7 linked regions of the Homo sapiens genome follow. The protein of the gene in region 2 interacts with the protein of the main gene of each other region in a pairwise test. Each region holds a gene or a part of one and is shown on either strand. Other genes may lie near its edges.

Region 1 (4,823 bases), on a different chromosome or scaffold from region 2:
TTGACCAAGACTCATCCTCTAATCTCTGCCCTTTTCAACTGAGGGCAGAATCTTAGATGGACAGGATTTTTTTTTTTTTTTTTTGAGACGGAGTTTCGCTCTTGTTGCCCAGGCTGGAGTACAATGGTGCGATCTTGGCTCACTGCAAACTCCACCCCTGGGTTCAAGCGATTCTCCTGCCTCAGCCTCCCAAGTAGCTGAGACTATAGGCAGGCTCCACCACGCCCAGCTAATTTTGTATTTTTAGTACAGACAGAGCTTCTCCATGTTGGTCAGGCTGGTCTCAAACTCCCAACCTCAGGTGATCTGCCCACCTCGCCCTCCCAAAGTGCTGGGATTACAGGCCTGAGCCACCACACCCGGCCAGGATTTAAATCTAGTCTACTCAGCCATAGAGTTCACTTCTTAGCCCTCTTGATTGCTGGGTCTAGAGAGACCCATTATTCCAGAGCAAAGAGTAGAAATTGTGCCCAGGCTCACATTTGGACAGAAGCAGCTAATAAGTGGATCAAAACTATTCTGGCCTTTCCCTGCATGTCTTCTTTTTTTCTTTTTTCCAAAGATCCTTTCCAAGTCATCCCTGCATTTAAAACTATCATTCTATCATCTCTAAATCTTACCTTCTATATTTAAAAAGAAAACAAACAGTACTTTGATTCTTCCCTTTTAATTCTACCTATCTCTTCTAGACCCTTCCCCTTTTATAAATATTTAAGGAGAGCTTACTTTGTGCAAATAAGTTTTGTCCAAAAGAGAGAGAAAGAACGAGTATGGCAGGGAATGAGACAAGCAGGAAAAGGAGTGTTGTAAAGGGCAAAGAAAGATCGCTAAGGCAGAGAAGAGGAGGGAGGAAGAAGGGAAGGAGAGAGGGAGAGGTAAGGAAGTGAAGAGGAAGATGAAGCTAGGTCTTGATTTGCATATATTGAATCTTTTCCAGGCCTCCCAGCTCTGGCACCAGATTGGGATGGTGGCCTGTCCCCAGTGAGAAGGAGGTGGCAAGGAGGCTGTCTCTTGCACTTTGCAAGATGCTTAAGGTGGGCATGAGTAGATTGGGTGAGGTGTGAGGAGAAAAGGGTAGGCTCAGGAAGAAGATGGGGGTGGTAGGGAGCAGACAGGAGGAGAAGGGAAGCGGTAGGCTGAAACCACACACGTTCACATTTGCATGGATTTGCTGAGGTGTGCTGCAGAGTGTCTGCTACTGATGGGGGTGGGTGTCCAGGAGAGGAGGCATCTCCCTTGATGACTTGGAAAGTGTTGGATGTGTTAGGACAGCAGTGTGGAGCTGCTCTGCTGCACAGATCTATGTGATTTTATAGTACACTGGAGAGACTCACATCCTGCTAGATGTGGTTCTCTCGTTCTACATACCACAGGCTTAGACAACCACGAACCAGCTCGGAACCCTTCTTCTGTATGAGCACTCAGGGAGTTGTCCCCTTAAATTCAGAATCAGGATCCTATCTGATCCTTGCATGGGGGACCGCTGAAGAATTTGGTCTCCCAGAACTTGGTAGGAAAACATTCTTTTTTTTTTTTGGAGATGGTGTCTCTGTTGCCAGGCTGAAGTGCAGTGGTGTGATCTCAGCTCACGGCAATCTCTGTCTCCTGGGTTCAAGCAATTCCCCTGCCTCAGCCTCCCGAGTAGCTGGGATTACAGGCGCGTACCACCACAAGCAGCTAATTTTTTGTATTTTAGTAGAGACAGGGTTTCACCATGTTGTCCAGGATGGTCTCTATCTCCTGACTACCTGACCCGCCCACCTTGGCCTGGGATTACAGGCGTGAGCCACTGCGCCCGGCTGGAAGGAAAACATTCTGAGTGACCGTGTATGTAAATAAGTCTTTCTGGTTATTTTATTCTGTGAACCTGTGTGATGTAATGACTGCATTTAAATAGTATTACAACAAAAACTAATTGTAATAATAGTAAATAGCTAACATCTTTAAATGTTTGCCATGGGCCAGGCACCGTGCTAGGCCCTCGGCAAGTATCACATCACCTAATCCTCCACTTCAATCTGATGCAATAGATGTAGCTATTCATTCCTATTTTACAAACATGGAGACTGATTTAGATGGGTTAAGTAATTTTTAAGATCTCCTGCTTAAAAAGAAGTAGAGTTGAGATTGGAACTCAGGTAGCCTGATGTCAGTACCTCTGCTCTTGGGTTAATTTGTAAGCTTCTGAACTCTGGCTGGTATGCATTTTGAATGAGGTCTTTTGAGTCTGATTGTATTACTCTGTGTGTCACCTTGAGCATATGTGCTATCATGTTCCGCCTGAAGGTGCTAGATGGCTGTCTTCCATTTGGTTTGTTTCTTAGTATAAGATGGACCAGAAGAGGAGCACTGCTTTGCGCAACTCCAGGGTGCGTCATTCACACTGCAGTCCATGCAGGGGCACTGGCCATGCCCTGTGTGAAGGAAGGGAAGGAGCGGGAGGGAGGGAGTGGGAACAGGAGGGAAGGGATAGATAATGGCGGGTAGTGTTCTTTGAATGATATGTGTACCCATTTGTGACAACATCTCTTAAAGTTGAAGGTCTACACATGTGTATCCATATTAGCATATGAACTTCATCAGACAAGCACTCTCCCTCCAACAGAGGGAGACCCTGTCTCAAAAAACAAAAAAAAATAGCCTTTAGAGTCAGACAGACCTGGAATCAAATTCTAGTTCTGTTTCTTAATATGTAAATGACCTCAGGTAAGTTGCGTAAAGTCTCAATTTAGTCTCTTCATATAGAGAATGGGGCAGGCCGGGCACGCGCCTATAATTCCAGCACTTTGGGAGGCCGAGGTGGGTGGATCATTGGAGGTCAGGAGCTTGAGACCAGCCTGGCCAACACGGTGAAACCCTGTCTCTACTAAAAATACAAAAAAAATGAGCCGGGCGTGGTGGCATGCACCTGTAATCCCAGCTACTCAGGAGGCTGAGGCAGAAGAATCGCTTGAACCCGGGAAGCAGAGGTTGTAGTGAGCCGAGATTGCACCACTGCACTCCAGCCTGGGTGACAGAGTGAGACCCTGTCTAAAAACAAACACATCAGAAACAGAAAACAGAAAAAAAAAAAAAAAAAGGGAATGGGGAACTCATGGAGTTGAGTCCATTGAGAGGATCATCATTGAGATTGGCACTTTGGGTGTATCAATAAATGGAAATGGAATAATTATTCATCCATATGCCTTATTTCCTGTGTTGGGGTATGTGTATGTTGTTTTTTGATTGTATGTGGGGCAGCTGGTAACCTGGCTGTAGCCCTGTCCCAGTACTTCTTTGGGGTTGGTGAAGGTGCTTGTTCTCCCTGGCTGGATTTTCCCAGGCCCTCCATGTACACGTGTGTGGGCCCTGTGCTTCCCTTTCAGTAGTAGGGTATCCTGTTCAGTGTGTTGCTGTGAGCCCGTATGTGGTTGGCCCGGCTGGCGCGGGCGTGTTTAGGGTGGTGGTAATTACTGGGATGGCCCAGCCCTAATGAGTGTGATCTCGTTACACTCTCGCTGCCTCTAATGGCGCTAACCTCATTTCACAGCCATTAGAGATGGAGATGAGGCCCCGCCCACTGGCCCTGCCAGCTGCAGCTTTTGCAGCCCTGGCCACGTTCTTTCCCTCCGGCTCGCCATTTCTCCATTCCACTTCTCCTTCTCCCACCTTTTTTTTCTGCTCCTCCTACCAGGTTTCCCTTTCCTGTCCCCCATTGTTCTTTTCCCTGGCCGTTTTTCTGCACCCCTCTCCTCTTTCATTCTCCTTTCATGTCTCCCTTCCCGCTTCTCTCTTCGATTCTGGGCTCCTCTTCTCTTCACTCATCACCCTCCCTTTTTTCTCCTCTAGTCAATTTGTCCTCCACATTGCCATTTCTCCATCCTCTTTTCCTTCCCTCTCCCCCGCCCTTCACGGCTCCAGTTCCTCCCCTCCCCCACATTGCCCTGTCTGGCCAAAGGACAAATCTCAAGGGGAAACCAGCAAAGACAAACAAGGAGCAGTGACTTCATTATCGTCGTTAATTTGCCACTTCAGTTCCTCCCATAAGGGTCAAAGCCAGCACTGCTTGAACTCAGGACTGACACGCAGGCCGAGACCATGGCCTGGCTTTTCAGCCCTACTTCTTACACAACCACTCGTCCGCCCTCCTCAGCTGTCTTCATTTCCCTGCGGAGGGGTCAGGCTTCCTGTTTGCTCTCCAATTTCTTAGTCCTCACAGCCTACTGCACTCCTTCCTTTCTCATTTAAATTGTGGCCATCTCTCTGTGCTCTCTCCCATCTCCAAGTCATGGGTTTTTCACCTTTGACTCCTATCTCTGTCATACTCTCTCCCAACTTCTCCCTGCCTAATCTTTCCAGAACCTCTTTCTCATCCTTCCCTGGCCTTCTCTCTAATTTCAAGTGCACTTCTTTCCCTAAAGCAGCAGGATTTATCTGTAGGTTTGTGGAAACCACATAGCCTGAAGAAGCTGGAGATGAGAAGAAAGGCATCTGTGGCCCAAGCAGACCACTGATACAGAACACAGAGATGGCTGGGGGGAAATGCAGACAACTGTGATGGAGGCAAGAGAAGCAGCAAAATCTAGACCCATGCCCATGGCCCAGGAATAAAGAAGACAGAGGCTTGAGATTAGGGAAAGAAAAGGGCATCACAAAACAAGGAATGAAAAATCTGAGGATGGAAATGGCGTTTACCCCATCAGGTCCTCGGGGAAACACAATCTAACACTCTTGGCCCACCCTCTGCCCTCCTTCACTGAGAAGCCAAATGACTGGTAATTGACTCTTGACCTCTAGCCCAAGCCCAGCCCCAAAGGGAGAGGTCCAGGGCAGTTAGCTATGAC
Region 2 (3,898 bases):
CAGGACCTCGAGGGATGCAGCTTTTGCGCGGATGACGGTGGGGTGCTGAACCAGCCGGTGCGCCTCTGGAAATGTCTGGGCACGGATCCTGGGGCCATCGACGACTCCTCCCCATTCCCAGCAGGCGGGAGCTCTTACATTCCGAGCGAGTGACCCCTCTCACCCTCTGGCGCTCACACACCTGTAACTCCAAACCTCCGTCTCAGAATGGTCCAGGCTGGAAGGGATGATGGGGGCTCCGACAGCGACTGCCTAGCTCACCCCTCTGCGTGCTCAGGCTCCAGGCTCAGCAGGACCAATTTGAGTTCTATCTGATCCCCCTCGGCCCCTTAACTGACCCATCCTACAGGAGACAGGGAAATGTCTTTCCTACCGCGGTTGATTCTGGGGTGTCATTTTGTGTTTTGTGATGGCTGCTTATATTTACTGTATAAGCATTGTATTTACTGTATAAGCATTGTATTATAATTACTGTATAAGCTGCTTATATTTACTGTATAAGCATCTCCAAATCCTCCCTCTACGTAAACAAATTAATGGATAAACAGATAAGTGTATCCCCTGCCCCCACCCCTGCTACGCAGGTCCGGAGTGACTCTTGAAGCTCATACATTCCTTGGCCAAGTTTGCTTCTCTAACAGATGTTTATATAGCAATAACCTGGCTTGGCTCTTGGGTTCACCTTTGGACGATTTGGGGAAGGGGCTTGTTGGCTTTGCTGGGTTTTGGATGAGTGACAGTCCATGACTGTTCCTGCTGGAAGGGCGTGACTTTTAAGTGGTTTCTAATATCAGGCATTGCTCCTCCGACAGGAACAAAAGAAATGGATACTGCCCATAAATTGTTAGAAAACTTAGAATCGCTTTGATTGAGGAAAGGTTAGATTTATTCCGGTTGGAAAAAGTGGCCTTTCTATTAAACGTGCCCTTTGACCCTCATGCCCTTGGAGGTCGGTGCCAGCCTGGAGATGGGATAAGATTGTGGTTTTCCTTCTGCCTTTTTAACATCTGTTGTTACAGTCCATTTGTTGAAAATTTAAAGAAACTGTTTTATTCCACTTTCCCTCAGCATTTATGTGTGTGGTTTCAGTAGCTCTGTGGCTATATGTACGAACACGTGTTATTTTTCCAATTGGACATGTGATAATTTTCCAACTGGACCTTGCCTTCTATTGATGTATTTATTTAGCATCTTCCTTACTCCCTCCTTGAAAAAGAATCACTCAAAAACAAATAAAAACAGCCGTAGGGGCCTAATACAGTGCTAGACATACAAGAGGTATTCGGTCCATACCAAATGGATTTTATCCATGAAGGATAAATGGGGAAATACAGTGGGAAGCAGGTGGGAAACTGCGTTTGACTCTGCTCTTTCCTCCACCACCACTTTCCTCATCACCGTGTTCAGAGACCCCCAAAGCCCCCTCACACTCCCAGAAACACCCCCCTGGCCACTCCTAACTTGCCATGCCCAGGAGTTAGGTGCTTCCACTAGTGACATGGAGCTGGCGTTTGGGGGGCACCTCAGCAGGTGACGGGAAGAGAAGACCCCAGCCTCACCAGCTGGGCTGCAGCAGGGAGAGGAGTCCTCATGTTCCAGCAGGGACTCTCAGCTGTTTTCCTGTAAAACCATGGTTCTCAACTGGGGGCCACTGAGATGTCTAGAGAGATGTTTTTGTTTTCACAACTCGGGGAGGGTGCTACTGACATCTTGTGGGTAGAGGCCAGGAATGCTGTTAAACATCCTACAAGGAAGGCACAGGACAGTCTCCTACATCAAAATATGACCCAGTCCCAATGTCACCACTGCTGGGGTTGACACTGGCACTGCTATCTTAATTACATTCATTGAGTGTCTTTTAGGAGGCCCTATTCTAAGTGCTTGCTAAGATTATCTCATTTAATCCTCACAACACTTCCGCTATGTAGCAGGTGCTGTTATTATCTCCGTGATGGGGAAACTGAAGCACAGAGAGGGTTAGTAACTTGCTAAAGGTCACAGAGCCAGTGGGTGGTGGAGCTGGTTGCCTGACACTAGTTCCCTCCCCTCTCAGCCACATGTGGGTTTACTTGGCCATTGTGGACTAGTCTGGGAACCCAGATATGATCTATAACATTGACCCAGTAGAATATTGATTCCAAAACCACTGTCTCACAAATGAATTTTTACAAGAGTCTGTAATCGGAGCATGACCCAGAATAAGGTTAGGGAGATGTGGAGTTAAAGCTCTCAATTTCTTATCTGGCCCCGACACAGAGAGCAAGGCATTTCACTCTACATTGGTGCTCTGTTTATAAAACAAAGAGCAAATATCTCTTCCTAAGGTCCTTAAACCTCTTCCCCCAATCCAGGGTTTCTGGACTGCTCTGCCATATGACGGGGCAGCTGGTTTGATTGACCCAGGGAAGGCTGGAAATCAAGACTGGGGGATCAAGACGTAGATTCAGTGTGGCCAAGGTCAAGTCTCTGAGGTTTAGGGACATCAGATCCCCAGCTTAGGTTCTGTACCTCGGCAAGGTGAAAGCGTTGGCGCCCACTGATGAGGCCTGCTCTGAGATTGTGGGTGTGGGTTGAGTTGGGTGGGCATAGGCAAGTCCTCTTGTAAGAATCTTTTGGCAAAGATGGGCCTGGGAGGCTTTTCTCACTTCCTGGGGCCCAGGCTTTGCAATAAGTATTCCATTATACTGTGGTACCTTGGGGCTACCTGAGAATCCTCTGTCTCGCCCCTGTTGCCTTGCCAAAGAGTTTGCTGTCCAAGAATTCCTTTCCTGTCTCCAGGTGCCATGCTCCTGCCACCTCTGCCAGGTTCCCTGCCTGCCCAGATGGCTCCCAACTGAGTGTGAGGAGGAATTTGAGACAGGTTTTGAGCTTTCTGGGTTCTCCAGTTAGGAAACTTTCTGTAAGCATGCAGATAGAATGGGCTTCAGCAAAATACAAACTCGAACAACTTCCATGTATAGTCCCTTAATTTTCTTTGCTTTTTTCATATTTCATCAGGCTCCATGCTGAGCCCAATCAGGGACCCGATAGAAATCCAAACACCATGTCAGCGAGTCCCCAAGAAATGCATTTTGTGCCAAGGCTATTCAAGGAAGGTTTGGGAGCAGCTCAAGGGCAGACACTGTTACCCTCCCCCAGGTCCCCAGTGCAGGGCAGTGTTCTGCATGTGGAGGCAGTTTGGCCTAATGGTTAAGGAGGTAGGCTCTGATCGGGCCTCCTGGGCACAAATCCCAGCTCCCTGCTCACTGTGAGACCTAAGCCATATTGTTTAGCTGCTTGGAGAGTTTTTTGTCATCCACAACTTGGAGTATGATGGTACCTGTCTCACGGGTTGCCATGGGGTTCACACAAGCTAACCCGGTACTCACTAGGGCCAAGCACATAGTAACTGCTCAGTAAATGGCATCATCGGCGGTGTCCTGTGGATGAGTGCTTGTGATTGGCTGAATGACCAGAGGGGTCTAAAGATCCTGGTGATGGAATCAGTTGTACAGATAAATTGTTACACTGAGTAGGGATCAAGATAGGAAAAGTCGGCAACTACCCAGCTCCCCTGCACCAAACTGGGCAGAAGTGGATCCTCTGAAAATTGCACACACCCATGTTTAAATGTACACACAGAACTCTTGCCACAGGCAAGCGGAGATTTGTCATCTGCTGTCCCTGCCTCATCTTCTTCCTGAAATCCACTCCATGCCAGGAATAAACTGCATGCTCTCCACCAGCCCAAACTGACCTGCCTTCCCGCCAGCCATCCCGGGCAGGGTGACCTGGCTTAGTACATCGGGTTCAGAGATCTTTCCAGTTTACTCGTTGAATAAAAAGTGAGGGCTGATCGAGAAAGTAATGGCAGTCAGGGAAGGCGAAGGAGGTAAAGAAGAGATTTTACAAATGAAGT
Region 3 (4,823 bases), on a different chromosome or scaffold from region 2:
CCAAGATTGTGCCACTGCACTCCAGCCTGGGTGACAGAGTGAGACTCTCAACTCAAAAAAAAAAAAAAAAAAAAAAAGGCGGCTGAGGTCATGAGAAGTTAAATTAGTTGACATTGCTACTTATAAACTATGGAACTATTTCTTGTGGCAGATGAGTGTTAACAGAATTCCTTGTAGAAACATGAACTTCTGTTTAAAGGCTGTGGATTTTGGGATTTTAAGAGCCTAGGCAGTGGGGAATAAAAAATTTTCATAGTTATATTCAATGTAAGTTAATGGAATTAAGATTTCATCTCTGAAACTTTACATTTTTAGCTTTCGTGATCTGTAATTATCTTTTCTTCCCACTTTCATATGATGTAAATAGAGCCTAGGTAGCAGGAGTTTCCTACCTAGGTATTTTACACAGTGAATCTGACTCAAATGTAGTTGGGGCTTTTAGAAATATTGTTAATAAACTTTGAGCTAATAGTTGCGAACTCAACATGCTGAAAGTTTGTAATTAAGAACAGTATTGGCTGGGTGTGGTGGCTCACGCCTGTAATCCCAGCACTTCGGGAGGCCGAGGCAAGGCAGATCACCTGAGGTCAGGAGTTCAAGACCAGCCTCGCTAACATGGTAAAACCCTGTCTCTACTAAAAATACAAAAATTAGCTGGGTGTGGTGACATGTGCCTGTAGTCCCAGCTACTCAAGGAGGCTGAGGCAGGAGAATTGCTTGAACCTGGGAGGTGGAGGTTGCAGTCAGCCAAGATCATGTCACTGCACTCCAGCCTGGGTAACAGAGCGAGATCTGTCTCAAAACGAAGAAGCAGCAGCAGCAGAAGGCCAGGTGCAGTGACTCACACCTGTAATCCCAGCACTTTGGGAGGCCAAGGCAGGAGGATTGCTTGAGGTCAGGGGTTTGAGACCAGCTGGGCCAACATGATGAATCCCCGTCTCTACTAAAAATACAAAAAATTAGCTGGGTGTGGTGGCGGTTACTCAGTAGGCTGAGGCAGGAGAATTGCTTGAACCTGGGAGGCAGAGGTTGCAGTGGGCCGAGATGGCAGCCACTGCACTTCAGCCTGGACAACAGAGCAAGACTCCATCTCAAAAAAAAGAAGAGGAAGAGTTTAATATTTATATAATAGTATTGCTGAGGGAGAGTCTAAATCTGGGACACTATAATAGGTTCTCTTTTCATAAAGAGATTTGTACATTTGAGTTTTCATAATGTCCTGTGTAATGATTCAACTTTTTATTTTTATTTCTTAATTTTTTTGGCGGGGGAGACAGAGTCTTGCTGTGTCACCCATTCTGGAGTGTGGTGTCATGATCATAGCTTAATGCAGTCTTAATCTCCCAGGCTGATGTGATCCTCCTGCCTCAGCCTCCCCAGAAGCTGAGACTATAGGCACATGCCACCATTCCCAGCTAATTTTTTTCATTTTTTTTTTTAGTAGAGATGGGGTCTTGCTATGTTGCCCAGGCTGGTCTTAAACTCCTGAGCTCAAACGATCCTCCTGCCTCAGCCTCCAAAAGTGCTGGGATTCTAGGCATGAGTTACTCACTGTGCTGCCCAGCCCAATTTTTTAATACATCTCGGTATCTAGATTATAAGGGGCAGTGTTTCTTTTCTTTTTTTTTATTTGAGACGGAGTTTCGCTCTTGTTGCCTGGACTGGAGTGCAGTGGCACAATCTCGGCTCACCACAATCTCTGCCTCTCGGGTTCAAGCGATTCTTCTGCCTCAGCCTCCCAAGTAGCTGGGATTACAGGCATGTGCCACCCACGCCCAGCTAATTTTGTATTTTTAGTAGAGATAGGGTCAGGCTGGTCTCAAACTCCCGGCCTCAGGTGATCCACCCACCTTGGCCTCCCAAAGTGCTGGGCTTATAGGTAGGTGTGAGCCACCGTGCCTAGGCTATTTTTTTTTTCTTTCTTTCTTTTGAGACTGAGTCTCACTCTGTCGCCCAGGCTGGAGTGCAGTGGCGCGATCTTGCCTCACTGCAGCCTCTGCCTCCGGGTTCAAGTGATTCTCCTGCCTCAGCCTCCTGAGTAGGTGGGACTACAGGTGCGTGCCACCACGCCTGGATAATTTTTGTATTTTTAGTACAGATGGGGTTTCACCATGTTGGTCAGGCTGCTCTCGAACTCCTGACCTCAGGTGATCTGCCCACCTTGGCCTCCCAGAGTGCTGGGATTACAGGCGTGAGCCACTGCATCATAAGGTGCAGTTACAGGTGTGAGCCACTGCATCATAAGGCGCAGTATTTCTATAGCTTCTTAAATTTTGTAAATAATGATGTATAGCATGTTCTCCCACCTCACCCCATATTTTCTTATATATTCCTTGATACTGTTTCAGCAATGGTGATTGTTCCCACTAGAGAACTTGCTCTACAGGTCAGTCAAATTTGCATCCAGGTCAGCAAACACATGGGAGGGGCCAAAGTGATGGCAACCACAGGAGGAACCAATTTACGAGATGACATAATGAGGCTTGATGATACAGGTAAGAAATGATTACTAAAAGGTAGTGTAGCTCTCTGTTATTTTAGTCACAAGTATTTCAGTAAATTATTAAAAATTGTTTTTAAGAATTAAGGAACAGAAATACTGCAGTAAGAAAAGGAAATGACCACTGCATTCAAGCGAAAAAGACAAATTACCATAATTGAAAACGATATTTGACTTTATTAGTAATTGTAAAACAGCAAGTTTATAATAATTTTACCTGTTTAATTGGTAAAGCTAAAAGTATTAGTAGACGATAATGTGAGTTTGTGGACAAATAGGCTACATTGTAAATGTGGGGGTGTAAACTTACATCTCTATCATGGGCAATTTGGGAGTATATTTTAAAATTATAAATGTATATATAATGTGTGTGTGTGTGTGTATATTTTTTTTTTTTTTGGAGATGGAGTCTTGCTCTGTTGCCCAGGCTGGAGTGCAGAGGCGCAATCTTGACTCACTGCAATCTCCGCCTCCCAGGTTCAGGCCATTCTCCTGTCTCAGTCTCCTGAATAGCTGGGATTACAGGCTCCCGCTACCACGCCAGGCTAAATTTTTGTGTTTTTAGTAGAGACGGGGTTTCACCGTATTAGCCAGGATGGTCTCGATCTCCTGACCTCGTGATCCACCTGCCTCAGCCTCCCAAAGTGCTGGGATTACAGGCGTGAGCCACCGTGCCCGGCCATAAATGTATATTTTTAAGAATCTTTCCTGAAGAAAAAAGTTGGGTAAATGCAGGGCTGTAGGTACAAAGTTGTTTGCTATGGGGTGGTATTGTCGTGCCGAAAAATTGGCCAACTTAGAAGGAGATTGGCTAACTAAATACGTTAAGGTATAATCTGAATAGGATTCTACATAGTCATTAAAGAGTAAAGTTGACCTGTATTCATTTTCATGAAGAGGTTTCATGATACATTGCCGAGTGGAAAAAGGTAACAAAACAGCAAGAATGAGATCACTCATATAAAATTATATCTTGATTTTAGTTAGAATATTATATATGATAATTATGTGATACATTCTTTGTATTGCATAGGTTTTTAAAAAATTATCTTGTTTGATCCTTTTAACAATACTCGGCTCACTGCTCTAGATTAGAGGCATTGCTCTTATGTCAGAAGTCTGGTGTGCCTTCTGCTATTAATTGAGAATTATCCTAAGACAAGAAAGTATGCCTACTGTTGAAAGCAGCAGGTGATTTAGGAAGCTGTACCCCACCCAATGTAGAGGTGAAACAAATATTTTTTAAGCATCCTGTGGTGAAATGGAAGTCTTTATCCTAAAACACATCTTTGTGCCTTTTTGTGTTATTTCCACCTCTATAACACAATGTGTTTCTTCTCTTTCTTTCTTTTTTTTTTTTTTTTTAATTTGAGACACAGTCTTACTCTGTTGCTCTGGCTAGAGTGCAGTGGTGTGATCTCGGCTCACTGCAACGTCTGCCTCCTGGGTTCAAGCGATTCTCCTACCTCAGCCTCCTGAGTAGCTGGGATTACAGGCTCCCACCACCACACCCAGCTAATTTTTGTATTTTTAGTAGAGACAGGGTTTCACCGTGTTGGCCAGGCTGGTCTCGAACTCCTGACCTCATGTGATCCACCCACCTCGGCCTCCCAAAGTACTGGGATTACAGGGATGAGCTACTGCACCCGGCCTAGTTGTTTCTAATAAAAGATAGTCATGTGCTGCATACAATGTTGTGGTCAGTGACGGCTGCACGTATGTCGGTGTTCCCATAAGATTATAATGGAGCTATACAATGGAGTAGGCTATACCATCACATAGCAATGCATTTCTCAGAATTATCATTAAGCAGCTCAGGACTGTAATATTATAAACCTTTATCCTCTTTGCTCAAATTAAAATTAATGAGAATGTATGTTTTCTAAATCTTGCATAGTGCACGTGGTGATTGCTACCCCTGGGAGAATCCTGGATCTTATTAAGAAAGGAGTAGCAAAGGTTGATCATGTCCAGATGATAGTATTGGATGAGGTAATGTCTCTTCATTTGGCATTATACTGTTCTGTACTTTTCTGTGCTTTGCTTATAACTGCCAGTGAATGAAGCAAAAGCTGCTTGTGTTTATGATCTAATAAACACATAAACAATCAGTTTAAATTAATTTGCTTATAAAATGTGTTTTACCCGTCAGAGGGAGTAGATTATAGGCATTCATTGGAATTCAGCATTTTGTCTTTTTCTTAGAGATAGCAGACATTAGGTTTTAATTTTTTAGTAGAGGAGTGAATAACCTCAATGCCAAATTTATTCTAAGTCTCTTTCTGCTCTGTGATTAATTTTTAAAAGCATATAATATATATTG
Region 4 (4,773 bases), on a different chromosome or scaffold from region 2:
CTGACAAAGTGTCACACACAGGTGCACGAAGGCAAACACTCACACCAAGCCACACACATGAATGATGCGATTGGGCATTCCAATCACAGTCACTCATGCAGCACCGACACATGCTCGGCCGCAGGCACTGTCGCTGGAGCCACACATAGTATCATAAGGCACACAGGGCCACACACAACTGCAAACATGGTCTCAGTTACCCCTGAGTTCCAACACACTCCTAATCTCCCGGAGTCTCACTGCTGCCACCTGGTGATGCACACTCATCCATGGTCTCATATGCACCGCAATGCAATTGCTCAGTGACAGGGTCAGACTCACCCACAGCCCTGTGTACAGAGGCAGATGGCTAGATACACACACACCCAGTTACACAAACAGAAACACACCCCCGTTCACAGCCCCACCAGGCAGGGATGGCCACCTTACCTCCTGCCAGGTGTCCAGTAACATGATGTCATACTTGTCCAGGTCCTCCTGGCTGAAGAACCCCACTTCTGCGAGGACCAGGCAGCCCATGTGGCTGGAGCACTCAAACAGTCGTGGCTGGAAGCTGGGGACCTCCTCAGGGAGCCTGGCCAGCACGGACAGCAAGGCTGTGAGCCACCCAGAGGGGCACCCCAGCCCATGGCACAAGTGCCCCACCCCAGGGCCTGGGAAGCCACTTCTCAGGAGTGGGAGCCCTGGGCCCTCCTCTGAGCCCCGTGGTTTCTCCCCGAGCACTCCGCTCTGCTCTGGGTACAGGGTCCCTCTCTGCTCATGGAGAAAGCTCTCGCCCCACCCAGCTGTGACGCAAGGTGCCCCATGAATTTCCCTAGGAGAGGGCTGCAGGGGTAGGGGAGGGCCTGAGCTGGAGTCTCGCCCTCCCTGGGATGGGAGGAGCTCCTCAGCCCACCCCTGGCAGAGAGTAGGTCTCCGGCCCAAAGTGGAAGGAGGCAAGCCAGGCTGGGAGAAGGAGACGGGAGTACTGAGCTCAGGAGAATTGTGGGGAGTGCAGCACATAAACCAAGCCCCACAGGCAGACCAAGAGCGACCAGGACTCAGCTCCCTCCTCCCCTTGAGGCCTCACTCCTACCTCCTACACACACCCTGTCCACTTACACACCACACACAACACCCTGAATACACCTGTTCTTGCACATCCACACACACTGTATACCCACACATCATATGACACTGTATACACACACACTGGGCACCGTGATCCCTGAGGACTGTAGGGTGGGGAAGGGTGCTTTGTCCCCTGGCCCAGGACCAGGACAATGCAGGGAGGGGATGCTGCCAGCAGAGGTCGCCACTGCCCCCACTCTCCCCAGCATCTGAGAGACGCAAGTTACCCAGGCCTGGGAGCGAAGCGTGGGCTGTACTTGTGGGAGCCTCTGTGAGTGGGAAACTGAGAGTCCTTGGTTCTAGTCTCGTCTTGCCAGCTCTCTGTGTGAATCCCAGTCACCCACCCTCCTCTCTGGGCCTCAATTCCTCCTCTGGGTAAGAACACTCTCCTCCCAACCCTGTTACCTCTTGTTGCTGGGGTAGGGGGCCCGGCCTCCCAGGGCCTCCCAGAAGTGGGGAGGCTCCTGACCCTCCAGCACCGTTTCCTCATTCTTCCTGGAAATGACAGTGACCACCACCCGTGCCATCTCACGCTGATCACCATTACAGCCCTAGCAGGCAAAGAGATGGCTCAGGCCCTGCATGAGGAGGGGCCTTCACCTCCGGCCCCACGTCCCGTTCACAGGGTGTATGGGGTGGGGCTGGGCCCAAGTCACAGGAGGCCTAAGCTGACAGCAGGACACCAGTGAACAAGGCATCTTCCTCACCCTACAGGCCTGTGTCCCCAGTTGATCTGGATCGCAGGGTCTGGGACCCTCGCAGGGTCCAGAGCATGGGATAGGAGGCCCCCAGGCTTAGAGGGTCAGTCATAGTTTATGCTGAATATTAGAGAAAACTCCAGCAAACTGGCATAGGCCTCCCCTTTTCCCAAGAGACCTGGGAAGGGACATGCCCTGTGCTCCAGGCAGTAAGGAGGGGAGGCGGCCTGGGCCTGGCTCTGACCTGCGGACTCTCAGGTCCACCTGTCACTTTGTAACTTTCCCCAAGTTCTAGAGGGGACCCTGTGGCTTCTTCCCCTCCCCATTCCCCCCATCGGCCTATCTGAGGCTGGACTCAAAGTCTGCATGCCCTGTGGAGAGGACCCACCCCCAGCCTGGCACCACTACATCTGGGCATGAATCAAGTGGTCAGTGCTGTGGGTACCTTCCCAAACCAGAGGTAGCAGACGCTGGCTGTGACCAGCAAGAAGATGTCACTGGAGTTGAGGGATGAGGCACGGGCTGGCACCTCCATGGTCCTGGTGTTGTGGCTGTCAGTGCCTTGCACTTGGAAAAGCCTTGTGGTGGATGCTGACTGCCCCTTTCCATGGTGCCCAGCTCTCTCCTATAGGAGAGCAAGGCCTCAGGCTGGGCAAGGGCTCCCAGGGGCGCCTTCCTGTCCCAGTGTGGGACATATTGCCTCAGAGCTCAGGGACCCTTGCTTGAAGCCATCAAGGCCCTCACTGGTGATTTCACATGAGGAGTACAGGACCCTCTAAGTGTGGAGTGCAGGAATCCCATCAGTCTGGGACAGGGACAGACCCTTTTTAAATGGACCTTTCCCCCCATCTCTGAGTGGTTGGGGCATGGGTGCTCAGGCCTTGGAGGTGGAAAGTGGGGACCAGGTTTGCTAGTGTGCAGCCCCAGGCAAGCCCCTGGCTCCCTTTCAACTCAAATTCCTCATCTGGCTCTGGGACTGGGGAGGGAAACTCAGGCAGGGGGCCAACCTTGGAGCTCCTGGGCCTTGGACAAGCTCTGGGAAACTAGGGGATGATAAGCAGGCCCCAGGCCCAAAGAGAAGGTGCTTAGAAGTGTGTGCGGGGGCCATGGCCCATGCAGAACTGGGCAGGCTGTGGCCAGAGTGGCAAGGTGAGACCTACCTGGAAGATCACCAGCTGGCCCTGGAAGATGGCGAGGAAGTGGGGGGGCTCGCTGCCCATGGTCACATGCTCCTGTACTAGGACGCCACCATACATGACATCTAGTTCCTCAGCGTTGCTGTTCAGGGCCTCAATCTCATCCGCAGTGGCCTGGTGGCCCTGCAGGTGGGGGCAGTGAGTGAGGGCCTGGCCCAGCTCTCACATTTCACTCCCAGAGCCCAGCCCTTGGGCTTTAAGGTGAGTGCTGCCTCCCTCAGGCTGGCACACCTGCCATAGGTACAGGATGTACTGGACACGGCCCAGCCTCTGGTATGTGTAGAGCACAAGGTAGCAGTTGCCTGCACACAGCTGTCCATGACGCTTGGGGTCCACGGGCTGCCTGTGTAAGTCCTGGATGCACCACACCTGGGGAATAAGGGACCAATGGGCACAGGTGGCTGCTCTTCCTGAACCAGCCCACCCATCCTGTACCCAACCGGAAAGCTCTCCCCAGCCTCTGAGGCCTTCCTCATCCACGCAGGCCAGGGGCCCACCCTCAGCTCCAGGCCCATTCTGGGCCTTGTGCTGGGCTTTGTACAAGGATCTGCAGGTGACCCTTTCCCCACGGACCCCTGAAACCCACCACACTTGGGAGATGGGCCCAATCCCAGCCACATGCCCAGCCCTAGTCCCAACCCCACCAGCCACAACCCTGGTTAGGGGCAGTTCAGTCCCCTCCCAGCTGCTCGCTGCTCAGGCCAGGGCAACAGAAGCCGGGCGGAAAGGGAAGCCTTGGAGCTCTTGAATGAATTCCCTTTTATCCAGTGTCATTTAGAAAACACAAAGCCTGTTCAAAGACTGAAGGGGAAACACTGTCTCACATCTGTCAGTGTAGTTTCTTCTTCCTGTGGGTGGCAGAGCCTGGAGCCAGGCGGACTCTGGTCAAATCCCAGGTAGGCCCTGTGTTGGCAGTGACATTGTTCTAAGCTTCGGGCCTTTCCCACCTGTATATTGGGGATGATGACGCCTCCCTTACCTCACCTCTGCATGGCAGGAGACAATGCCTGGGTGTCCTTTCCCACACTGACCCTGACAGTTGTCCCTGGGGAGCCGACCTCCAGACCAGAGCAGCCAGAGCCCTGTCTTTCACAAAAGTGGCTGACTTGACTACAGGCCACCTAACAGTGGCAATTACCGGGCAGCCAGGACCCCTGGCTCAGGCCCTGTCTCTGCCTGCCTGTCCACTGCCTACCAGGAGGGATCCTGTCCCTGACTTTGTGCTTGGCACCTGAGTCCCAGGGCTCTCTTTCCCTCCGTCCCTCGCCTTTCCTTCTGCTTTCCTGTCTCCCTCTCCCACTGTCTGGCTCTCTGTCTCTCTCTGTGTATCCCATCTATCACTGACCCTCCCTCTCTTCTCCCTGTACCCCCTCTCTCCCTGCTCTTCCTCCACCCCACCTCCTCCTCCCTTCCCTCTGCCTCCTCCTCATCCCCTGTCCTTCCCAGTCTTTTCTTCTCTGTCTCTCTTTGTGCTCCTTCCCTGTCTTCCTCTTTCCCTGTCTCCCCCTTCTTCCCCCTTGCCCCATCTCCTCCTCTCTCAGTCTCTTCCCACTCATCACTTCTGTCCATCCATATTAGGGCAAAGGAAGAAGGAAATCTTGCCTTTTCTCTGACCTCCACCTACCTCGAGAACTAGGACCCCTCGCATAGGCCCAGCAGTTCTGTTCCCACAAGACCACAGGATCCCCACATCAGCCTTGGGGCCAGATGGGACCACAGTTTCTGACCCCACTTTATTTAAAAACTAGGGCCTAAAAAATTCAGGGCTC
Region 5 (3,500 bases), on a different chromosome or scaffold from region 2:
AGTGGTACCTGGCCAATAAGTAGCCATGATATGACAAAGCCTAGTGAGTGACTAGGCCCCTGGTCTCAGAGCACATGTTCTAGTGATTTGGGGATTAAGAGTTCAGTTTTGGATGCAAGTAGAAGCTGCTGGTTAGATATCTTAGGTAGAAGCATTTAAAAGGCAATTAAACACATGAACACAGAGCCCAGTAGTGAGACCTAGACAAGGGGCTGGCAAGCTATAGCTGTACAGCTGGCACCCATTAGAAATTTTATTGGGACACTTTTTTTTTTTTTTTTTTTTTTGGACCTCTGTCACCCAGGCGTGATGATGGCTCACTGCAGCCTTGACCTGCCAGGCTCAAGCAATCCTCCTACCTCAGCCTCCTGAGTAGCTGGGACTACAGGCATGCACCACTGTGCCAAGCTAATTTTTTATTTTTTATTTTTGTGGAGATGGGATCCCATTATGTTGTCCAGGCTGACCTCAAACTCCTGGGTTCAAGTGATCCTCCCACCTCAGCCTCCCGAGGTGCTGGGATTATAGGGATGAGCCACCACACTTGGCTGGGACACATCCTTATGTATTGTCTATGCCTGCTTTCAAGCTAAACAGAGTTGGGACATGTGACAGACCATATAGCTCACAAGCTAAAAATATTTACTAGCTGGCTCTTTCTTTCTTGTTGTTTTCTTTTATCTTTTTTTCTACTAGCTGGCTCTTTTAAGAAAAAGTTTGCTAACTCCTGATCTAGGCTAAGAATATAAATTTGAGAACTAGAGATGGAACCTGAGGCCGTGGCAGTGGATAAGACTACATAAAGATCACATGGACAATGAGAAAAGGGCTGAAACTTAACTTGGAGAAAATGTATGTTAACATTTAAGAAGTGGGCAAAGGAAATTTTTAAAAAGATATGCATGGTCATGGAAACTAGGTCCTGGATAGGTGTTAGCAGCCATCGTTCCCTGCATGGAACTGTCCTGTTTAACCTCACTTATTCATACAAATGGCTGCCAATTAAGTGTTAAGCTTTGGGAATGGAGCTTCCAACAAAATGTTTGCCTTCATGGAGCTTATATCCAGATAATTTCACCTGCTTCTTAGCAACCTGACATTAACATCTCTTGGGACATCACTTTCTATCTTTCCTTGGGAATGATTGCCCTATCCTTCTCCAACATCTAGCCCAGTGCTTAAAAAGAGAGGGCACTGGGGCATAACTCTTAGTGATGCCTCCAAATGAAACCTGGAGACATCAATGTTAGTGACGAAGGCAGGGGAAGGTAAATTGGGAACACAAGTTAAAAAAGTACTAAAATGCAGTCATCTAATTAGTCTTCATTAAAAGAACATCTGCTGCAGTAAAAACAGGAAATGTTACTTTCTAGGATGAAGAAAGTTGGTCACAATGATAAGTATGTGCTTCTTTCCCTTAATGTTAAGAAAACTTAAAACTGAATTAAGAAAAAAAAATTGAAGCTGTGGGCACATTCTGTTACTCACTTAGCAGGAGTTGGCAAGCCAACTGACCTCTGAAATAGAATTTCCTCATCTCCAAGATGGTAAAATTTTAAAAAGGCAAAAAGCTGCCCTGTCTACGTCACAGTGCTATAAGCAACGAGAGCTACTGTAGGGCACTGGCTCTGTCTCACCCATACAAACAACAGTTACTGGCTTAAGAGGGATCTTAATTCAAATTTAAAAACTTGTAACTATCCTTAAATGACGTATTTTATTCCACAGCTTTCACAACTTTCATGAACTTTCTTTAAGCCCTTTATCTCTACAAGCCAGCCCCAGCCCTGGTTGCTACCACTCATCTTGAATATTTTCAAGAGGAATATTTCCCCCAAAGAGTCTCCCCTTGTCCACTCCTCACATCCTCCACACCACCTTGAGAATCTTAAAAAGTTCATCACATTCTGGCTGGGCACGGTAGCTCATGCTTGTAATCCCAGCACTTTGGGAGGCCGAGGTGGGTGGATCACGTGAGGTCGGGAGTTCGAGACCAGCCTGGCCAACATGGAGACACCCCATCTCTACTAAAAATACAAAATTAGCTGGGCGTGGTGGCACATGCCTGTAATCCCAGCTACTTGGGAGGCTGAGGCAGGAGAATTGCTTGAACCCAGGAAGCGGAGGTTGTGGTGAGCCAAGATTGTGCCATTGCACTCCAGCCTGGGCAACAAGAGTGAGACTCCGTCTCAAAATAAATAAATAAATAAAAGTTCATCACATTCTATCCATAACTGCCACCGAAAAGAACTCTGTTCATCTAGTGAGCATGCTATGCCTCCATGCCTTTATTCAGGATGCTCCACAGACAAATTACTCTTCTAACCTGGGAAACTGACCAAGCAGTGCCTCCTCTGTGGGTACCCAAGAAGCCTTCTCCCTTGGGGAAGCTGCTGCTATTTCCTACTTTATACCCTCCATGTACAACAGCAATCACAAACCTTTGTGCCTGGCCCTTTGCAGGTCCTCAAACATTTCTTCAAGTGACAACAGTTCTGTTTCCTCATTTTATAAGGCAGGAAAATTAAGGCCCAGAATAAGTCATTTGCTCAGAGAATAGAACTGGAGAGTCAAGATCCTCACCATGACTATTAATTCTTATAAGGAATTGGTCATACTCACGTAATTGTCGTTCCCCGTCCTAGAGTGTTTCCTCTTGGGTCAGCAATTACAGAAAATTCATTGGAGTCAGACTCCCAGATGTGCTGGGTATCGTTGTTGTGTTTTGAAGTGACAATAACCTTATCTGCTACAAGGAAGGCGGAATAGAAACCGACACCAAACTGGCCAATCAATTCAGAAGTTGACTGGCCATCTTCCTGTGCTTCAGTCATTTTGTTTAAAAACTCGCTTGTCCCAGATTTGGCTATGGTACCAAGGTTTTTAACCAACTCTTCTCTGGTCATTCCTACACCGGTGTCTGTGACATGCAGCAGGTTCTTCTCCTTATCACACTAAATGCAAGACAAGAACCAGATAGTTGTATTTAATATTTACATTATGCCAAACAAATATTGAGGAACTAACCAGCTTTGGGTCCCATCAATTCCAATACAGAAAACTAAACTGAGATATTTTCCTCCACATAGTTTTTTATGGCCTTTTCTGAAAGTGTACATCTTAAAGTAATTTATGTATTTGAGAAAGTATTAATATCAAATGGGCAGACTGGCCTAAATGTCAAAGGTTAGAGGCTGACCTAAATAAAACAAGTTACCTTTGAAGGAAAACAATTCAAGAAAAATAAAATTTTATGTCTTGCCTATTTCTTTACTAGAATACAAAACAACTTGAATGATTCCTCTATTTGGAATCTGTGATGGATCATTAATATTCTTCACTCAATATTCCTGGCTGTCTGCCTTCCAGAAACTTAGGAGTACTCTACTTTCCATTTAAGAATGGCTAAGGCCATGTGACTAGTTTTGGCCAATGAGTTATAAATGGCCAATGAGTTGTAAAGGAGAGCTCTGTTTTCAGGCTGAGCCTTTAATTATAAT
Region 6 (4,157 bases), about 12 Mb from region 2:
TGCCCCTAAACAATGTAACGAGACACTGTGGAGTGCTGTCTGTGGACACACAGGAGGTGGGCCTGGAACCCAGTGCTCCTGCCTCCAGCTCCAGATAAAGGAATGCACCTTCGACTGTCTCCTCTAGGACCCCAGTGTAGCGGGAATGCCTTAAAACAAAGTTGTTAGTGTTGCAGCTTTTTGAAAGAACCTGTCTAGCTGGTTTTCTGGTTTTCACCGGAAGACCCATTTTACAAAAAAGATAAACTTGTTATATGCAGGAGACAGGAAATTGGAGGAGGGACCCAAGAAGGCCATGTCCTGGAGAATACAGCTTTCCTGGGGGCCTTGAGGAAGCAGCTAAGGGCCACTGTCCTTCATCCACGCTTCATCCCTTGCACTCCTCTTGGCCTGGTGTTTCTCTCCAGGGCTTCAAAGCTGAGGAATCCACTGATTCAGAGCATGCTGTAGCCGTCATCACCAGGTATTGGGACTTGCCCTCAATGTACTGGGTCTCAATTCTTTTGTATCCTCTCGTTTGTTTGGTAGAGAGAGGGGTGGAAAGTATTGTAGATGATCTATCTCTACATCTTTAGTTTTGTGATTGTAATGATTTCCAGTAGGCAAAACTTAAAACTCCTTGAGGGCAGAGGTCTGATACCTATTCAGACCCCTACTCAGGGGTCGTGGAATGCGGTTTGGCGCCTTCTCCCAGCACTGTTGATAACTGAGGGCAGCACCCGGGAGGGCCCCTTAGCTCCTTCCACCATCTGGGTCCTCTGATCCGCAGGACCTTTGGGGTTTATTCCCTGTCCACTCATGGGTTCTGTGTACCTTCTGCTGTTAATCTACACCCCTCTCCCGTCTGCTCTTCCATCTTAGTGCTCTCTTGCCACTTCATAAAAATGGTGCCACAAGCTCCCTGGGGACAAGGCAGGGACTTCTTCGCTGCTGGAGGCCCACGGCCAGCATTCATGCTGAGGGGTGAGGGTGGCAGGTGCGATTTGATGATATCCTCTCCCGCCCAAGCAAAACAACAGCTCTCCCAGACCCCAGACCTCCTCTGCAAGTGAAAGAACACCAAACAACTCTGTTCAAAACAGTTTATTTTATTTTATTTTTTTTTTTGTCAGACAAACACATTGATTTCTGGACCACAGTAGAGGATGGAAACCTTTCACAAACTTATTTATTTGAAAATACAAATATAAAATTATACTTTCCACATCTGTGATGTGAGAGACTGCCATCCACATAGTAATTTTTTACAACAGGGCTTTAAGAAAGCCACACACAAAGACCTGAAAGATGCTTGAGATATATATATAGATAGTACATATATATGTATATATATAAAAAAAATACTCACTACCAAAGTTCTCATCAGTTTCATACTAAAGTATAAAAGTAAGGGTGAGGTCAGCCACAGTGCTAGGGAAAGTTTTATTTAGATACATTTATGTCCACATGAAACGCTTAGACTTGCATCCTATTACATATGGAATTCGGAGTTTACAATACACCATGAACGGCAGATTGGCTAGCCCACGCTACTTAAGAGGACACTCACAGATTCCACATGGGATGGTACATTATGTACAGAATACAGTAGTAGAGAACCTTCGAGGGAGGCTCTGGAACTTTTGTCTCTCAGCCTCCGGCCCCCTCCCCCATCATGCCCCTGCCTCCCGGAACTGAAATCCTGTCTGAGACAATACATTCTGATTATTTGATAGCCAGGTGTTTGGATTAAGGTTGCCCCCCTGCAGGTCCCCGACAAGAGGGATGGATTTTATTTATATGTTTTTGTGTTTTAGTTTACTTACTTTTTTTTGGTAGAAAAAAAAGAAAGAAAAAGAAAACAAACATATTACAGTATTAAAGTATTGCTTAACTTCCAGCGTCTCCTTGTGTAGTGTCTGTGCCCAGGACGGGGCTGAGCTGACGTCTGCTAGTTTTCTGCTTTGGGGTGAGGGTGGGGAAACCCGCCAGTGTCTTTCTTCAATGTGCTTGCCTGCAGTCAGTCCCTCTGCTCTCCCACTGTCTGCCTTCCTTGGAAGATAGCCTGGCTTGCGAAGCACATTCAAGAAAAAAAAAAAAAAATCTCCCCTCCCCCACCAGCCCCCCACTCTCCCTCTGTTCCTGCGTGCCACTTGCAACCAATAAAGAGAAGTATGAGTTAGTGTTTCTTTTGTAAACAATTTCATATGCAATATAATACAGAAAGCATGGCTGACCTTCAATAAAAAATGTAGTAAACGATATTGCTTTATTCTTGAATATGCTGCAGTGAGTGAATGGCAGAATGAAGCAGTGTGGAGGTGGTGGAGGAGGCTAAGTCCCTAGCCCTCGTTTGCACTAAAGATCAAAATAGGTTTTGTTTTTCTATTTGGAACCAAAAATAAATTTTTTCCCCAAAAACCCCCAAATGAAAAGGAACAACAAGCAAAACCCACCCCCAAGAAATCAAAAACAAAACAAAACCAAGAACAAAAACTGAACACCTTTCAGGTCATTAGAACCAACAATTACCCAATGATTTTTATACTAGTCTAGCAAGATGTGTGTAACATTCACTGGCTGTGATTGCTGTGCAGTGAAACAGTAAATTGACAGCAATAGAGCCATGCTACCTTAAAGTCCAAGCTACAAGTTCAAATTAAGATGAAGGTTATGAAGGATAAAAACGCAAAGGCCTGCTGGGGCTTTGTTTGAATCAAGCTAATGGGCGACTGGGATAGAGCGCGAGGCTGTTTGGTATAGAGCGCGAGGCTGTTTGTTCCCAGTGGATATAAGGAAGGCCACGAGCCAAGTCTGTGGAAGCTGCTAGAGAGCAGACCAAGGCTTGGTCATCTCCGTCAGCCCCATGCCCAGCTAGGACCGGGAATGGGTCCGGGAGCTAATGCCACTCACTCGCCTCTGCTTGGGAGGAGAGGAGTTCGGGGGTCTCAGGCAGATGGATCTGGAAGCCAGAAAGTCACCCGGTGGCTGTTTGATAATTCCGGGGAAAAGCCATCAGCCAAGAGGGTTTCTCCCCCAGGGAAGGCGAAAGGTGGTTCCCATGTTCGCCATTGAGCTTAACTGAAACAAAGACGAGGCTGAAACATCAGTGTTAAAAGAATTTACAAAAATCTTTCAAAATGGACTTCTAGATGGAATGGGGGGACTAACGTGAACCTTAAACCTAGGTAGCCACATTAAAACATATCGGATTTCCACAAGATTTGTGCTATGGGCTACTGGGTCTCTTCAAAAGGTATATAAACATCTAAAACATATTCACACAGATTATCAATTTCTTCTGAGCATTCTTAAAAAAATATTTTTTCTCTTAGTAAAATCATTTTAATATACCATGCCTCCCTCTTTTAAAAAATAAATTAAAAAAATCCAGTTTTGCATATCTAGCATTAGCATTTAAGGTAGTATGGCACCCCTTCACAGTGGGTGGGGGGGGGGGGATCTACAAAACGCCGTAGAGTCCGCCGGCATTTTAACATGGTGAGACCTTGGGTTAGTTGAAACCACATCAGATCAGCTAAAATAAAATTAAACTTGAAATTGAAAAAAATAATTAAAGGAAAAAACTGCCCCAAAATTATTAGCATTTTTTTTCATAAATAAGAGAAAGTTCTATCCTTACTGGTCCTAAATCTGAATAACTATGTCTAATTTTTTTTAAACCTTAATTATGTTATACCTATCAATATGTACTAGAAGAAAGAGGAGAAAAAAAGTCGCTACACTAGTACCAGGACAGCACGCTTACAAGATAGCCATTTTATACATTATTAACATACAATGATCAACAAAGAGTCTTCTATGAGGTGATGGGGGATGCAGAGAAAAGGAAGGGAAGTACAGTACATCACCAACATGGACAAAATAGGAATTAAATTCCCTCGTCTAAACACTGAATTTCTGGGAATTTACTATTTTTTCTTTCTTTTTTTTTTTTTAAATAAAACTTATGTTTTGTTGTTTTATGACTTGAACAAGTTTTGATATTTTAAAAGCGCTCAGCATTTAATCTGGTTGTTTGGGGGAAAAGAAAAGAAACAAAGAAAGGAAAAAAACAACAAAAAAACCTCACCAAACAACCTAACATTTTATTAGAAAAACAAAGAACATGATTTTTTTTTTAATTAAAAAAAATGTTGTTGCTGTTTCATTAGAAT
Region 7 (4,823 bases), on a different chromosome or scaffold from region 2:
TGGCGCAGGCACAGGCAGGAAGGGCACCATGGAGTCCCAAACTGACAAGGACACACAGGCCTCTGCCTCCTCCTCTGGAGATGCTCCAGCCCACCCCACTATGGCTACACGGGAGACCCCAGATCCCCATGGACCACGAGAGCTCCTTTCTTAGCAGCTGTGACCCATCAGCTCAGGAGCATCTCCAGGAGCAAGCACACGGGGCCTGACTCGGCTGCCATCCGGGTCTGGTGCTGGGTAAGTCATCCCCTTCTCTAGGCCTCAGTCATCGTCCGTACCCATCTGTGCACGATGCCTGGCACAGCACCAGTTCTCAAACATGCTGCACAGATGCATCTGCAACTGCCAGAAATCTAGAGAGTGTTTCTCTTGGCAAAGCCTGCTAGAGGTAGGACATTCAGATAGTGCCCTGGCTAGAAGCCCACTGGAGGCATGGAGGCCCAGGGGGGCAACAGCTCCACCTGGCCAGAGACCTTGAGACAGATGGGCATAGAAAAGAAAGAGCCAAACAGAGAGGAAGGCCACATCTGTGGCGGGGCAACGGTCTAGAGAGGAGGGTCTCCTGGAAGGACTTCAGTCTCGCCCACGCCGCGGCCCCTTGCCACCTCAGCAGGCTCCAATGCACCTCCAGTCAGTGCCAGCTGCCATCTCTCTCTGCCTGGGGGCTTCCTCTAAAGCCTGAAGTGCTAGGACTTAGCGCTACCCCACCCTGGAGCACCCAAAACCAACAGCTCCCCGAGCTAATGCCCACCAGACCAGCGCCCTCACTCCCAGGTGGGAGGCTCTGAGGCCAGCGTCCTTCCTGGCACCCCAGCGGGGCTGGCGGGGAGTACACGCCCTCCAGGCTCTCTGAACCTCTCAACGTGCTCCTGAACCTCATCTCAGGGTCTGCTTATGGGGGACCCAGACCAAGGCCTATGACAACTTGTTTCAGTTTACTGTGATATTCATATTCTTTAACCCATATTTTTAAAATAATCCTAAGTATGAAAAAAATGATAAAGATGTTCATTGATACTGCTTATAATTATATAAAACCAGAGAGATCTTAATATCCAACATCAGGGGAATGATTAAGAGACTGTGGCAAACCCGCTCATGGGGCGAACATTTGACAGCGCGTGTGTGGCAGTGTGAGAAGCGGTGCGGAAGGGAACACGTAAACCGTGCGTGCTCATGGAAAACTGAGAGCGCACTCAAAAGTCACATGTGGTTCCATCTAAGTGATTTTTTTCCTTCATTTTTTGTAGAGATGAGATCTTGCCATGTTGCCCAGGCGGGTCTCTTGAACTCCTGGGCTCCAGCGATACTCCCACCTCAGCCTCCCAAAGTTCTGGGATTACAGGTGTGAGCCACCACACCTGGCCCCTTTCATTTTTTGGAGACAAACTGTTTTTAACGAATGTTATCTATCACTAAAATAAAAAACAGGTTTTGATTTTGCCAGGTTGCCAGCTGGGCCAGGGATGGCACAGACAGTGGGCTTTGACTCGGTGCCACCTCTTCCTGCCTCGCACTAGTGGAAAGGACTGGTCAGGGGAGAGAAGGGCCACGTCCCTCTGGAAGAGGACAGTAGGGGAAGGTCACAAACTGAGGACACCACCCTTGAGAACAAGCTTACTTCTTCCCACTTAGTCCTGACAGGGCTGTGTAGCCAGTCACATAAAAAGCTACAGTGTGCCTGAGGCCTGGCAGTGGGGGGCACGCTGGCTGCAGCCCTCCCATGCTGGCCACGTGCCTCACCTGCTCTGGGGCTGAGCACGCAGCAGCTGATCAGACACTGGTCCTTCAGGTGGAGCAGCTGCCGACAAGTCCTGTGCTCCCAGCGGCCTGGCCTGTCCTGCTGGCCTCCGCTTCCTGCTACGCCCTTCAGGTTCCATCTTTCTGCCAGGCCGCCGGTCAGGTCCACCAGGGCATCCGCCACCTGCCCGGCCCACAGGTGCTCGTAGGACCCATGGACCCTAGGGGACACAATCACCATGGGAGTGAGCCTCTGGCATTGAGCATGGCCCCCTCTCTGATTCCCATGGTCTGTAGCACCCCAAATCGTCCAACCGCTGCCTCAATCCCACCTCTTTACTCCCCTCTGCCTTCTTCCTCATCCTCACCAAGTCAAGGCTTAGCCTCACCTTCAAACGCCTTACTTCACAGCAAGCGTGAGCGCCCTGCAGTCCTCTGCCCACACACAGAAACTCTCTGGCATCCGGTGTGGGCACAGGAGCAGGGCAGGAGGCGTGGAAGCTATGGATGCCCACATCCCTTGGCTCTCAAGCTCCAACCCTGCTTTTCCTAAAACAGCCCTTGGGATGGAAGGGCTCACTGGGCACTGATGTCACCAGCCAGCCTTCCCATGTTCACCAGCTTCCCTGCCTGCCTGTCAGTCCAGTTGCCTTTGGCAAGAAGACAAATGCATTCTAAGAGGGAAGGCTATTCAATTATGACTCATGGTGAGGGTCCTGGTCCCCTGAGCCAGCAAGCACCGTGATACACAAGTGTTGGTATGCTGGGGTAGCCTCATTCCTCCCCAACGACTACACAATGAGTCTGCCTGTCCCAACCACTCCACAACAAATATAAAGAAGCATCTTTCTTGCTGGGGCCGATAAAATAAGGAGGACGGCACACATGTTCTCTGTGGAGAACGACTCCACGCTGGGCTTTGGAACAAGGGAAGGGAAAGCAGGGAGTGGGCAATCCACAGGCCCAAAAGAAGAATCTCTGCACCTGGCCTGTCAGCCTGACTCACAGAATGAGCTGCCAGACCCTCAGAACTGAAGGGGGCTCTGCAGCCCAGAGTGAGCAGAGACCCTCCTGGGGCAGCCCATGGTAGTGGCAGCTCCCACTTGCCCCAGGCCAGGCCCTTCAGCCCCCAGCACACGCACTTGGCGTAGACCTTTTCCAGTAAGGGGAGCCAGAACACATCCTCCCTCTGGCAGCGGGAGAAACAGAGTCTCCCTGCAAGGCACGGCAGGCGGTCATCTGTGGTCACCTCCACCCAGCGTCCAAACTGCCAAATGCGACAGGTGAAGGAGCCCCGGTACTCCTGGTCGGCCCAGCTCGGCTGTCCCGGAGGAATGACCTGCCATGCACAGGGAGAAGCAAAAGGCGAGCGTGATATAAGCACCACCCGGCGCTACTCCAGTGTCCCGGCCGCGGTGTGGCCACAGCTGAGTGCTCCACAGGCACCGCGGTCTGCAGAGAACTCTAACGCACACCTGGATGTCGCAGAGAACTCTACGGCACACCTGGATGTCGCAGAGAACTCTACGGCACACCTGGATGTCGCAGAGAACTCTACGGCACACCTGGATGTCGCAGAGAACTCTTCGGCACACCTGGATGTCGGCGCCTGCACAGGGCTGCATCACCCACATGAAATTAACAGACCTCTCATTGCAAAACTTGAGGACCACACCGAGGGAGCCACATATCCCGGGACACACTCTGCTGCCCTCACTAAAAGCATCTGACCTGAAGCCAAAACAAATGTGACATTCAAGGGCATGAGTGACCCAGTTCTTGACCGAGCTGGCTGCAAGCAACACGTCACCACAGGAACAGCAGCCCCTCCTGCTGCTGGGAGCCTGGCGCCCCGACACTGGGCCAGCTGCTTGCACCCACAGCGTCCACCGCAGGGCTCCTTCAGGGGTAAGCATTCTGACCCAGCATCGGGGGAGTGCAGGCTGGGCACCAGGCACCTGGTGCGGTCCTGGCTCTGCCACTTTACGGCCAGAAACACAATGGCAGTGATTTTAGCACTCTCGTTTAAAAAAAAAGTCAAAGCTGGTAAGACCATGTGTCTGAAAGCCAGTGACTGTGACACGCTTACCATGGGGCCTGGGACATGAGTGAAACTCTGAATGAGGTCACACTGTTGACGCCGCTGCATTAATCAGCAACACTTAGCAACAAGCCAAGCATAAAACGGTGAACACTCCCAGGTAAGGAAAACCTGAGAAGGCCTTCTCCTCCCAGAGTATCTGTCTACCCACAGAAACAGGTTTAATAACTTTTTGCAAACTTATATTCAAAACCTGTAAGAAAACCAGCGAGCTAGCTGAGGAGAGATCTGAGGCAGAGGCTGCCAGCCAGCCCCGTCCTCCTGTGAGCTGGCACATTTGTCTCTTTATTCTAAACGTGGTGATCTGACTCCATGGAGTCCGGGGGTCAGGAGAGCACAGAGCAGGGCGAACCTCCCTGATGGAGCCTTCTGGCGAGGCCAAGGCACCCCCCCCTGCAGCAGAGGGACAGAGTGCAGTCCTCAGCCTCTGCCTTGGAACTCTCCTGCCTTCCCCCAACACAGCAGGAGATCCGGCTGCGGCACAGCTCTGCTTTCGCAAGGCCTCCTGGTACTCAGCAGGCTGGAGAAACGCAAAAAGAAACCGGCTCCAGGACAAACACAGGGAAGGGGCCCCGCACCTGGTCCAGGAGGTGCCTGCTCTTCTGCAGCGCGGCGCAGGCACACAGGAACCAGCAATCCCCCAGCAGCCCCTGCTTCACCTGCCCTTCCCGTGGGTCATCTGGAAACAGCCGGGGTGTGGCACAAATCTCCTGAGATACAGAAAGTTGTCCAGAGTTAGATCATGCCTGCTGTGGAACCCTTCAAACTAAGAACCCAAGGCTCTAGATGACAGGAGTTGGGGTGGAGCTTTTCCGATCATCAGTGTTACCCAAAAAGGGACAGGAAGGTGGTTTCCTGCAGCGGGTGTCCTTCAGCTCCTGGCTTCAAATGCCTCTGTCCAGCTTAATTCTGGGGTGCCTTCCTTCCTTACTGGAAAAATCCCAAACTCTAGCAAGCTCCTTCTCAAAACAGCTAAATGTTG

The links.
Region 1: the proteins of MAPT (region 2) and ZFHX2 interact in binary tests that used the Homo sapiens proteins (3 or more experiments, as listed by UniProt).
Region 3: the proteins of MAPT (region 2) and DDX6 interact in binary tests that used the Homo sapiens proteins (3 or more experiments, as listed by UniProt).
Region 4: the proteins of MAPT (region 2) and VILL interact in binary tests that used the Homo sapiens proteins (3 or more experiments, as listed by UniProt).
Region 5: the proteins of MAPT (region 2) and HSP90B1 interact in binary tests that used the Homo sapiens proteins (3 or more experiments, as listed by UniProt).
Region 6: the proteins of MAPT (region 2) and MSI2 interact in binary tests that used the Homo sapiens proteins (3 or more experiments, as listed by UniProt).
Region 7: the proteins of MAPT (region 2) and CAPN10 interact in binary tests that used the Homo sapiens proteins (3 or more experiments, as listed by UniProt).

Annotation. Positions count from the first base shown.
Region 1 is NC_000014.9:23,541,222-23,546,044, forward strand, and holds part of ZFHX2 (zinc finger homeobox protein 2), read right to left. Parts: intron 1-4,823. UniProt on the Homo sapiens protein: Transcriptional regulator that is critical for the regulation of pain perception and processing of noxious stimuli.
Region 2 is NC_000017.11:45,897,527-45,901,424, forward strand, and holds part of MAPT (microtubule-associated protein tau), read left to right. Parts: exon of another isoform or gene 1-1,272; intron 1,273-3,898. UniProt on the Homo sapiens protein: Promotes microtubule assembly and stability, and might be involved in the establishment and maintenance of neuronal polarity.
Region 3 is NC_000011.10:118,762,881-118,767,703, reverse strand, and holds part of DDX6 (probable ATP-dependent RNA helicase DDX6), read left to right. Parts: intron 1-2,348; coding exon 2,349-2,495; intron 2,496-4,397; coding exon 4,398-4,492; intron 4,493-4,823.
Region 4 is NC_000003.12:38,000,056-38,004,828, reverse strand, and holds part of VILL (villin-like protein), read right to left. Parts: intron 3,374-4,773; coding exon 3,236-3,373; intron 3,128-3,235; coding exon 2,969-3,127; intron 2,434-2,968; coding exon 2,254-2,433; intron 1,662-2,253; coding exon 1,516-1,661; intron 575-1,515; coding exon 430-574; intron 1-429. UniProt on the Homo sapiens protein: Possible tumor suppressor.
Region 5 is NC_000012.12:103,933,410-103,936,909, reverse strand, and holds part of HSP90B1 (endoplasmin precursor), read right to left. Parts: intron 2,955-3,500; coding exon 2,623-2,954; intron 1-2,622.
Region 6 is NC_000017.11:57,681,601-57,685,757, reverse strand, and holds the end of MSI2 (RNA-binding protein Musashi homolog 2), read right to left. Parts: 3' UTR 1,069-4,157; downstream 1-1,068.
Region 7 is NC_000002.12:240,589,071-240,593,893, reverse strand, and holds part of CAPN10 (calpain-10), read right to left. Parts: intron 4,552-4,823; coding exon 4,420-4,551; intron 3,080-4,419; coding exon 2,883-3,079; intron 1,962-2,882; coding exon 1,744-1,961; intron 1-1,743.